3 linked regions of the Homo sapiens genome follow. The protein of the gene in region 1 binds, or shares a complex with, the protein of each later gene. Each region holds a gene or a part of one and is shown on either strand. Other genes may lie near its edges. The genes, in order: EIF3C, EIF3J and EIF3I.

Region 1 (3,748 bases):
TGGCTTTTCAAGCACTCTGACTTAGTATAATCCTCACAAAGCTCTAAACCTAGTAATATTCCCCACAATTTTCCTCTCAGCAAAGCCCACGCTTGCTCAGGCTCACCTTGGGAGTGAGGGTCAGTATTTTGCATTATTTTGGTAAATTCTTCATCCATTCGTTCCACCAGAGTTAGGATGCAGCCACGGACACGCAGTGGCTGAAAAGGAAGGCGAAGGAGGAGTCAACAAATTAGCCCAGATCTCAGTCTCAAACCTCAACCCTCGGGTCCCACTGAGCCTTCCCAAAGCATAAAATACACACCTCCAGTTATCCTGCCAACTCCTCCCTTTACCTGGTCAGCGTTGTGCAGGTTCTCACTCTCTTCCAGAATATTCTCTCCAACAAAAATGTTGGGATTTGCAAACAGGATATCCATCAGCTCATTGATGCAGTCCAGGCACTTCCCCCACATCTCTGGCTGCCAAGATTTCAGGCCACATCAGAGTCAGAGGTGTGAAGGTAGAGTAAGCGGATGCCTCCCCCTTCAGCAGGAATCATGGGGCCTTCCACCACCAAGACTGCCTCCATAGCCCCTGAGTCTTAAGATGCTAGGTACCTTCTTCCCCCAACCCACCAGCGATGCCCTGAGATGAGCCTCTTCACTGCTCTCACCTTCATGTAGGTTGCCAGGTTGGGGTTGTAGTCATAGAGAGAGGCGATGATATTGAACTTGATCTTGACAATGACGCCCTCTCCCAGGTTGTTTTCCGCTGCAATCTGAACCAGCAGTTGCAGCAGCTCAATCTGGGCAGCACTAGAGGGCCAGAGAGCTGGGTGAGGCTTTGGAGACAAATCACAAAGTCTCTCCCAGCATGCCCGCTTCGGATAACGCGCCCTCCTCATCACCCATATCCCTGCTTCTCCTTTATAAATTCCAAACAGAAGCAACAATAATCCCAACCATCCTGGAATGCTGTGAAATGCTTCACACCTACCACCATCCTCTGTTACCTAATAACTAAAGAAGGTAAACACTCTTTTACTTTTTTAATCTTAAAAAAAAAAAAAGCCAGGTGTGGTAGCTCATGCCTGTAATCCCAGCACTTTGGGAGGCTGAGGCAGGCGGATCACTTGAAGTCAGGAGTTCGAGACATGGTGAAACCCCATCTCTACTAAAAGTACAAAATCAGCCAGGGATGGTGGCGGGTTCCTGTAATCCCAGCTACTCAGGAGGCTGAGGCAGGAGAATCGGTTGAACCCAGAAGGCAAAAAGGTTGCAGTGAGCCGAGATCGCGCCAGTGCACTCCAGCCTGGGCAACAACGAGACTCCATCTCAAACAAAAAAAAAAAAAAAAAAAAAAAGAGGAGAACATTATCTCATTGTATAGATGGGAAAACAGATCCAAAACGTTAAGTGATTGGTTTTAAGTCACAAGAAGAGTAAACAGCAGATAATGGACGGGGATGCCCCAAGCATACAATTCCCTCTACTACAGCCACACACAGACCCTCCCAACAATCCCTTCCCCCAACCTCCACCCTCTGCCACCCTGCAATCCCACTGCCCAGGCCCACGAATCTTACCGATCAGTTCCCTTCTTGCCTCGTGCCTGTAGGATCTCATTCAGTTTCTTGATAACAACAGCATGGGTGATCTCAGTTCCCTTGGCAAACATTTTTGGCTTCTCCTGTATCAGCACATATCCCGTCATGTACATGCCAGCGGGAAACTGTCCTTGCCTTTTCCCCACAAGGGGACCTTTATGTCCTCCCAAACTGTTCCCCAATTCATTTTACCTCTGAAACCCTCACCTTAACCAACGGCACTCCGCCCCGGACCCTTTCCCACTCCCCGCCTTCATTGTCCTCCTCCTCCTCATCCAGGCGCTTGGATTTCCTGTCGTGCTTCTTCTTAGCTTTGTCCTCCCGTTTCTTCTCGGCTGCCTTCTTGTCCTCATCTGTGGTGGGTGCCCTGCCGACAGACATGGGAGAAGATGACAGATCAGCCCCTCCCCACCTCTAAGGCTTCTTCCTCCCATCAACTTCCTCTTTTCCTCCAGCAGCTCCTGGGTCCAAGTTATGCTCTACAACAATGACCTAGAGGGCACAGTGAACCATAACCATAGCCATCTCTAACAAGACAGAGTACTAACCAGGCCACTGTAGACATATTAATAGAAACAACCTGTCAGCTAAGCATGGTAGATCACTTGACGTCAGGAATCCAAGACCAGCCTGGGCAACATGGTGGAACCCCATCTCTACTAAAAGTACAAAAATTAGCCAGGCATGGTGGTGCACGCCTGTAGTCCCAGCTACTTAGGAGGCTGAGGCACGAGAATCACTTGAACTTGGGAGGCAGAGAAGGCTGCAGTGAGCCACAATCATGCCACTGCACTTAAGCCGGGGTGACAGAGCAAGACTCAGTCTCCAAAAAAACAAAACAAAACAAAACAAAAAAAAACCAACCTGTCATTTTGCTCCAAAGCTAACATCTACAGTTTTCCAAAGAATCCACAAACAACTTATTTTCTTTGATACCAGCTGCTTTCTCCAGACTGACCAACTAATCAATGAATCAGTTCCCCCAAATATATAAAAACATTTTTTTCTTTTTTACTATTCCTAAACTGTTTTATCGCTTTCTCTCCTCTCTTGACAACCGATTAATCTAAATTCTGAATTTAAAAAAAATGTTCATTACAAAAAAGGTCCCCACAAAACAGAAAAAGATCACCAGCTACCTTAAAATGGTCTTAGGCTACTGGATGTTGCCTGAAACCATCTCCAGACTTGAGTATGTATTTATGTAACAAAATACAAACCAAATGGCAAAGACAAATTACTTCAAACTTTGCACAGATACTGAAGAATAAATCTTTCCAGAAAGACTCAACATTTTTGAAAACTCATATGTAATAACCATAATCTACCATTTGAACATTTATAAATAAATTTCATTTTCACTGCTTAAAAGGTTTGAATATGTTTTTGGAATAGTCTATAAGTTTACCAGTTAAATTAAGTCTTCCCTTGCCAGAAGACCAATGCCATAACTCTCAACAAAAGTGTATGGACTGGCCAAGCACGGTGGCTCAAGCCTGTAATCCCAGCACTTTGGGAGGCCGAGGTGGGCGTATTGCTTGAGCCCAGGAGTTTGAGACCAGTCTGGGTGACAAGGTAAAAAGCCCGTCTCTATTAAAAACAACAACAACAACAACAACAACAACAACAAAAGCTTATGGATCTTTCCCCTGTACCACTGCAAGACTCTAATGATGACTCACTTTATAGGTAAAATCCTTTGCAAATATGCAAAGCATGTTCATTAAACTAAAACCTCTTGGTCCAAACCATCTGTATAGCTCTGAGATCAGAAGAACTAAAGCTATTTTTTAAAATGAATGCTTCAAAAGAACTTAAACTTCCTTGGCTAAAGTATTACTTCTAGCACTAAAGATAGTATGATACACACCTCAAAAGGGAAATGTACTATTGTATGAAATTCTAACTGAAAGACCTAAGACTTGGCTTGACCTCTCCTATGACAGATTATACTCTGGTATATTCATATCTTGTTAGAAATTATCAGATAACAAATGTTTATATCCTCAGCTATATAATCAACAGATAAAAGCAACATTTCTAAACGAGTATTACCTCTACTTAATACATAGTTAAGAGACTAAAAACTCATTATTGAGAGACACCAACGGAAGTCAGGCCTAACTACACTGCAGAGGACCACACCATTTTCCCATGCCT
Region 2 (3,748 bases), on another chromosome or scaffold:
GCACGATCTTGGCTCACTGCAACCTCCGCCTCCCAGGTTCAAGCAGTTCTCTGCCTCAGCCTCCCGAGTAGCTGGGATTACAAGCGCCCACCACCACACCCAGCTAATTTTTGTATTTTTAGTAGAGACGGGGTTTCACCATCTTGGCCAGGCCGGTCTTGAACTCCTGACTTCGTGATCCACCCGCCTCGGCCTCCCAAAGTGCTGGGATTACAGACGTGAGCCACCGCGCCTGGCTATATATATATATATATATATATATATATATATTTTTTTTTTTTTTTTGTAGATACAGGGTTTCGCCATGTTACCTAGGCTGGTCTCAAACTCCTGAGGTCAAAGTGATCTTCCCGCCTCGGCCTCCCAGAGTGCTGGGATTACAGATGTGAGCCACTGCACCTGACCTATTTATTTTGAGACGGATTTGTGAGACTGGCTAATTTTTGTGTTTTTGGTAGAGGTGGAGTTTCGCCAAGTTGCCCAGGCTGGTCTCAAACTCCTGAGGTTAAAGCGATCTTCCCGCCTTGGCCTCCCAGAGTGCTGAGATTACAGGTGTGAGCCACTGCACCTGGCCTATTTATTTTGAGACAGATTTGTGAGACTGGCTAATTTTTGTGTTTTTGGTAGAGATAGAGTTTCGCCAAGTTGCCCAGGCTGGTCTCGAACTCTTGGAGTCAAGTGATCTATCCTCCTCAGCCTCCTAAAATGCTGGGATTATGGGCGTGAGCCAGCAGACTCAGCCATATCACCAAATTTCTGAATTCTTATGTTTTTGTACTTTTTATGAGGAGTTGCAGACAAGGCTTAGTTTCCGTGAGGTCTTCTGTTCATGTCAGCATCTAGTACTTAACCTTTAAAAATACAGGTTTAATGTCATTTGTAATGTCCTGGGAAATGAAAGGAAAACTGATGTTTTTGTTATTATAATTTGCTCCAGCACTTTACTCTCATTTAGTAGACTTAGTATTTTGCTGTCCTTGACTTTTCAAATAGCTGTCTGGCAGTGGCAGAAGTGGACTTAGGTGAAACTGTACAACCGTTAATATATATGGCAAGAAAAGACTATGCTTTTCCCCAGTTAAAAAGATGAGAACTCGGGAGCATAGTTTCCCATCACCCTGGCTTTATTTACCTTTTTTACTATCCTGATAGTTGTGCAGAGGTAGTGGGAAGAATTGTTCACTTGGCATATATGACTCCTTCCTCATTGCTGGTATGATATGTAGGATGTGTTGACTGAGAAGGCAGTGAGTACCTACTGGACACAAGGACAACATAACTTTTGCTCCATTTTACTAGTCTCCTAGCATTTCAGTAGAACAGTTTAGAAGCTAGATTTATTCAAAGGGTACAGAGTTTGCAGAAACTTATAGCTGTGTTCAGCCATCTCACGCATTTGCCTCTGTAACCATATAGCATTTCTTTTAAAAGATCCTGAAGAGGCTGAGGCAAGAGGATTGCGTGAGCCTAGGAGTTTGAAGCCAGCCTGGGCAACATAGCAAGACCCCAACACATTTAAAGAGAGAGCGATCCTGAAGAACAGATTTAGTTGAGCCTCTCTCGTCCTACTCATTCACTCTCTGTTAGGATCCTATTCCAATAAATAGTTTGAATCTACCAGATAGGGACAATTTTCAGGGGTTGGAAACAACTTCTAAAGAACAGGATCTGTATTTTACAGAATGTGAAATTACTAGGAAATACCCAGAAGGTGGGCATTTTGCCAGAAAATGGGTATTTTGAAGAGAGTGTGTGTATGTGTAACTTAAGAAAAATTCCAAACATGCAGTAGAGAGAAACATTTAATAAACCAGTGACCAGTCTTGTCTCCTCTGTATCCCCACTTTCCTCCTCCAACCAGATTATTTTCAAGAAAATCTCAATCATATCATTTCATACCCTGCCACTTTTATAAACTAGCAAGTTTTGAATTAGGAAGCATGTTTGTTATTGAAAAATATTTTCTTGTCATGATGGATCATTGTAAATAAACCACTTGTTTAGTGTTCAGTGTCTTGATATCGCTGAGCCAGAAATTTAAAGTAGATTGATAACTGTCCTGAATATGAGACAGGTAGGCATTGAGATGGAACTCAGCTGAGTGCTGATCCATTGTAGTATGTTAAAAGCTTAATGAATTGAATTAAATGAAGTAGAATTTACTAAGGCAGGCACCTTGGCTTCTAGGCACCCAGCATAGTTCTGAGATGGTGGAAGAACATTTTGGCTTTTAAAAAACTGAACTTTGCTGGGAAGTCTACCCTTGCCAAGATCTCGTTGCACAGTTCTGAGTTCTCTCAGAACTGCACAGCTTACAGAACACAAATTAAAGGCTTTTTTTTTCTTTCCCAGCAAGAGATTATGTTTTACCTAAACCAAATTATTTAAAGAAAAAAGGAGAAGGAGTATATGTTAGTTCCTAGGCTGTTGCTATAGGGCAAAAGAGTTTTATTGCTCGTTTGAAGCTACTTCTATTTGACAATCTATAAATACATCTTGCTTAAGTTGGAAAGCATTTTCAGCCCTAAATGTGTTCTCATTGCATGTGACATAATGTAGTTTTATATTATGAAGACAGAACCAGCTAACTACTGGCCACATTGTTAGAAATAAAAAGAAAGCAAGATATAAAGTTTTCTGCTTTGCTTCTGATACTTAGTTGTGTTCAATTAGGGAAGCAAGTTTTAAAGTTAAAAAGCAGCCATCTCTTTCATAGAAATAGCTTAAATGATGGGTGTGTATCTGCAGGGCAAGAGTATAGATAAGCAAGTAGTTTATAAACAGGCCCTATTCTAAGAAGCTAGCCATTTTAGGAGAGCAGCCTGGGTGATTCTTTTGAAGATAAATTGGATATTATAGTTGAAAGATTAATTGGCTACCAAAAATAATTGGGTAAAGGATTTAATTGGATGTTCATAGGTAGTCTCTTGAACCAAATAACCATTTAGGGCTCTTTGAAGTGAGTTGTAGACTTGCTCCCTATTTTAAGTGTTAATTTTAGCTGTTTCTCTAGGAAGCCTTTTTACATTTTATCTGAATTTGCTGCTGGAATTTACAAACTTCTAATGTTTACAAAAAATTGGGCATATTTTTTGAAGCAGCGTGGTGAACATTCTACCTTAAATCTACTTTTCAGACACTTAATTTTATAACTATGGAAACAAAAACTCTAACTTCCTGGGGAAAGCTACCTGGCCTTTTGCTTTTATAATTACATCTGTTTGGAAGTGTGACCAGTCTCTTTTTGCTGACACTTACTATGCTCCTTTCTTTAGGGGCTTAGTGCTAGTTTGGTAGTAACTTCAGGGCAGACTTGTAAGCACTTTGGGGAGAGAGTGACAGTCAAGGTTTGGATGGTCCTTTTATGAATTGAGGAGCAGATGTCATGGCTCTTCTTGGTACATGTTGATAGGAACCACTTTTTTTTTTTTTTTTTGAGATGGAGTTTCGCTGTCTCCAGGCTGGAGGGCAGTGGCGCAGTCTCGGCTTACTGCAACCTCCGCCTCCTGGGTTCAAGCGATTCTCCTGCCTCAGCCTCCCAAGTAGCTGGGACTACAGGTGTGCGCCACCACACCCAGCTAATTTTTGTATTTTTAGTAGAGATGGGGTTTCACCATGTTGGCCAGGATGGTCTCGATCTCTTGACCTCGTGATCTGCCTGCCTTGGCCTCCCAAAGTGCTGGGATTACAGGCATGAGTCACCACGCCTGGCCAGAATCACTTCTTTTGCTACTAAAATCCATTCTGT
Region 3 (3,748 bases), on another chromosome or scaffold:
GCTTACCTGTTTCACAGTCCCAGAGACGACAGCTGTTGTCAGCTGAGCCAGTGAGGACATGCTTGGTGTCCCCTGAAGAGTTGTTAAGAAATATGACGAAGTTCACCCGAGCCCTTGTCCTCTTGGGATGCCAAGTGAATCATCTCCCTGTTCAGCCCCAAAGAGCCTTTCTACCCCTCTTACCTCCTTATCCAGAACTGGAATTTGTCCTGAATGTTTCCTCAGTCAGTGAAGAGACCAGGGAGTAGGAGGTATCGTTCTCTAGGCCCTCAACAGCACCCCCAACTCCCAACTCCCAACTCAGCCTCTCCATCGCTGACAGACCCTAGCAACACGGACTCAGACCCAAAATAAGGATACAGTCAGCGTCCACACACCACACAGCTCCGGTATGGCCCATGTAGGTGCCCAGCCTCTCACCATTCACAGAGTACCATACATTGACGATCTGGAAAAGTCAAACCACAGGATAGTACACATCCCAGTAAGAGCAATGGCTTCCTATTTTGCCCCAGGAACCCTCAGCAGCCTGTAGCAAGGCTGATTCTGCCCTCTTCTGTTTATTTCTTGGGAAACAGCAGGGAGCTGGTAAAAAGACCAACTCCTGGATTCTCCTCCCTTCCTGAAGGGAAGCAACAGAGGAGTCAGGCGGCTTGTAAAGGCATCCTCATTTGTTAGCTCCAGCTCTCCTGGGACTCCCAACGGCTCCAAAGAATAAAAGGCCAAGTTGAGCTCCAGTCCAGAAAAACAGTATCTCTGATGTCTTATCCAAGTGGGAGCAGCTGGTAGTAAGGAAGTCTGGGTTCTGGTGCCTGCTCTGCCACTGTCTCACTATATGATCTCAAATACAGTGCTTCTCTCCTCTGAACTTCAGTTTTCTCATCTTGAAAATGGCCAGGCCGGGTGTGGTGACTCATGCCTGTAATCCTAGCACTTTGGGAGGCCGAGGCAGGCGGATCACCTGAGGTCAGGAGTTCAAGACAAGCCTGTCCAACATGGTGAAACCCCATCTCTACTAAAGATACAAAAAATTAGCTGGGCATGGTGGCACGAGCCTGTAGTCCCAGCTACTAGGGAGGTTGAGGCAGGAGAATCGCTTGAACCTGGGAGGCAGAGGTTGCAGTGAGTCGAGATCGCGCCACTGCACTCCAGCCTAGGCGACAGAGCGAGACTCCGTCTCAAGAAAAAATAAAATAAAATGGCCAGGTGCCTCAAAAGGCAGTATCATGAGGGATTGTTTGGCATTGAGTAGCAGGATGGGATTGACTTAAAATGAGACTAGAGACACCCTCATTAAGTTCCCTGTGTCTGAATAACACAGCCTGCACCTATCCTGGTAGAAAGATTAGATTATCCCTAAAGGTCGCATCCCGTTCTCTGGGCAAGCTGACCCTCATCTTTATCCCCTTTCCACAGTGGTCTCTTGCTTTTCTTGGAGTGCAGTGGCACGATCTCAGCTCACCGCGCTCAAGCGATCCTCTCGTTTCAGACTCCGAAGTAGCTGAGACCACAGGCGCGAGGCCACCATGTCAGGCTAATTTTTTTGTGTGTAGAGATGGGTCTTACTACGTTGCTCAGGCTGGTCTCCAACTCCTGGGCTCAAGCGACCCTCCCACCTCGGCCTCTCAAAGTGCTGGGATTACAGGCGTGAGCCACCGCACTCGGCCAATAGAGTTCTTCCCCACCTTTCCCGGTAGAATACTTTCGCCAACCTACCCCCGGCATGGCCTCTCCCTACTTCTCACAATGGGCTGCTCTTTGGTTCCCCGCTAACGGCAAAACTGGCGTGTCCACCCATCGTCCTGGCAGAAGGATCCCGCCCCTCCCGGACCCCCTCCAGCCAACACTCACAGGGTCCTTGGCCACAGTAAAGAGGAGGTCTCCTTCGCGGTTATACTTAATCTGCGTAATGGACCGCTCATGGCCCTGCAGTAGGATCGGCTTCTGTGGGGACAAGACAGTAACGTCAGTGCTCGGAATTGGGCCCCAGCCTCAGCCCAGGACCCCCACTGCAATACCCCTAACTCTGAAACTCACCATCCCGGCTGTGACGCGAGGAAGGCCGCAACGTGAGTAAGACCGGAAAAGGTTTCGAGGTCACTTCCGGATTATGGGTCTCCGCCCCTTCGTTCCCGGAAGTAGAAGACAGCGGCGTTGCCATGGCGGCGTCTCTGGGTAGGTAGCCGGCCCCGCCCTTCCATGGATTTCCCGACCCTCGCCTCGAATTCATTTCCTGCTCCACATCCACCCTCTAACCCCGACCCCTGCTACAACCCCAGAGGCCGGACTCCTGGATTCATCTCCCTAGCTTCCCTGGGCCTGCCTTAGCCGCCAGTCGCAGCCGAGGCGAAGAGAGCGAAGGAGGGAAGTGGGGGCGGCTAGCTGGGGCTAGAAGGCCAGGAGAGGGCGGGGTGGGCGGCCGTTTGGGGTGGGGGTCAGGGTGACTCACTCGTCTGCATTCAGGGCAGGTGTTGGCTCTGGTGCTGGTGGCCGCTCTGTGGGGTGGCACGCAGCCGCTGCTGAAGCGGGCCTCCGCCGGCCTGCAGCGGGTTCATGAGCCGACCTGGGCCCAGCAGTTGCTACAGGAGATGAAGACCCTCTTCTTGAATACTGAGGTGCGTCTCTGTGAAAGGCCCCTCTCTCGGTGGAGTTGCCGCCAAGAATTTGGTCTTTGGAGTCAAACAGGTCTGGGTCAGCCCCACCACTTACTCACTAGAAATTCTCGGAAAAGTCAGTTGTCCTTGAGCCTCAGTTTCATCATCTGTAAATGGCGATTATAATAATAACCATCTGATAGGTCAGTTGCAGGAATTAGGTGAGATACGTAGAGCACTTAGCATTAGGCCTAGAACATAGTAAGTGCTCAATCTATGGCTGCCATTATTCACATTTTATTGTGATTCCTTCAGTTACATAAGGCAACATTTGTGAGCCTTTCCAGAGGGAGGGCTTGGGGCTCAAATTGGCCCTGCAGGGGAGGAGTTCAGAGGAGGAAGGCTGGAGCTGGAGGACTTGGGGAAGGCTTCCTGGAGGGGCTGACATTGGCTTCAAGGCCTTGCAGGATGGGAACTAGCAGAGGTGAGGGAGAGGGTAGTTTGAGCAAAGGCACAGACTTCAGTCTGTTTCCCTCTTTGCCCTGGAAGGATCCTCCTTAGAGGGATTAGTGTTCTCTGGGTCCTTATAACCCTGCCTCCCTCCAAGGAAAGACATTCGCTAGGAGCTCAAAGAAGGCAGTGCTGCTCAGTCAGGCCATCACACTGACTGCAGGTTTCTCCTCTTTCCAGTACCTGATGCCCTTTCTCCTCAACCAGTGTGGATCCCTTCTCTATTACCTCACCTTGGCATCGACAGGTGGGTCCTGGCTTGGAACTGTTCTGCTTAGTGTTTGAGGCCACCTGGAAGAGTGATTGGGGGGGGCGGGGTGGAGCTTGAAACACCTCATTCCCATCAGTGAGAGAGGGCTGACTAGCTCTAGTTCCCTCTTACTATCCTCTTCTCTGAACAAGAGGGGCACAGTGTGCTGGTTATGAGTATGTTGCTAGGCACTGGAGTTGGTTTGAAGCCTGGCAGTCATGTGTGACCAGCGGAGGAAGAAGGAAGGTTCATTTTGCTGTGCCAAGTGCTGGCTTTCACATTCTTGCTTCCACTGTGTGCTACCTACCTGACCATGAGCAAGTCACCCATTTGAGCCTTGGTTTTATATAGTTGGCTTCATAGCATTGTGAGGATTAAATTTAATGAATGGGAA

The links.
Region 2: EIF3C (region 1) and EIF3J share a complex: the UniProt entries of both Homo sapiens proteins name them as parts of the eukaryotic translation initiation factor 3 (eIF-3) complex.
Region 3: EIF3C (region 1) and EIF3I share a complex: the UniProt entries of both Homo sapiens proteins name them as parts of the eukaryotic translation initiation factor 3 (eIF-3) complex.

What each region holds. Positions count from the first base shown.
Region 1 is NC_000016.10:28,721,371-28,725,118, reverse strand, and holds part of EIF3C (eukaryotic translation initiation factor 3 subunit C), read right to left. Parts: intron 1,956-3,748; coding exon 1,796-1,955; intron 1,672-1,795; coding exon 1,568-1,671; intron 868-1,567; exon of another isoform or gene 798-867; coding exon 656-797; intron 462-655; coding exon 336-461; intron 201-335; coding exon 107-200; intron 1-106. UniProt on the Homo sapiens protein: Component of the eukaryotic translation initiation factor 3 (eIF-3) complex, which is required for several steps in the initiation of protein synthesis.
Region 2 is NC_000015.10:44,539,999-44,543,746, forward strand, and holds part of EIF3J (eukaryotic translation initiation factor 3 subunit J), read left to right. Parts: intron 1-3,748. UniProt on the Homo sapiens protein: Component of the eukaryotic translation initiation factor 3 (eIF-3) complex, which is required for several steps in the initiation of protein synthesis.
Region 3 is NC_000001.11:32,220,734-32,224,481, reverse strand, and holds the start of EIF3I (eukaryotic translation initiation factor 3 subunit I), read right to left. Parts: upstream 2,076-3,748; 5' UTR 2,041-2,075; coding exon 2,038-2,040; intron 1,945-2,037; coding exon 1,852-1,944; intron 449-1,851; coding exon 361-448; intron 73-360; coding exon 7-72; intron 1-6. Other genes in the region: TMEM234 (transmembrane protein 234), read left to right, coding at 2,160-2,175, 2,464-2,615, 3,285-3,351. UniProt on the Homo sapiens protein: Component of the eukaryotic translation initiation factor 3 (eIF-3) complex, which is required for several steps in the initiation of protein synthesis.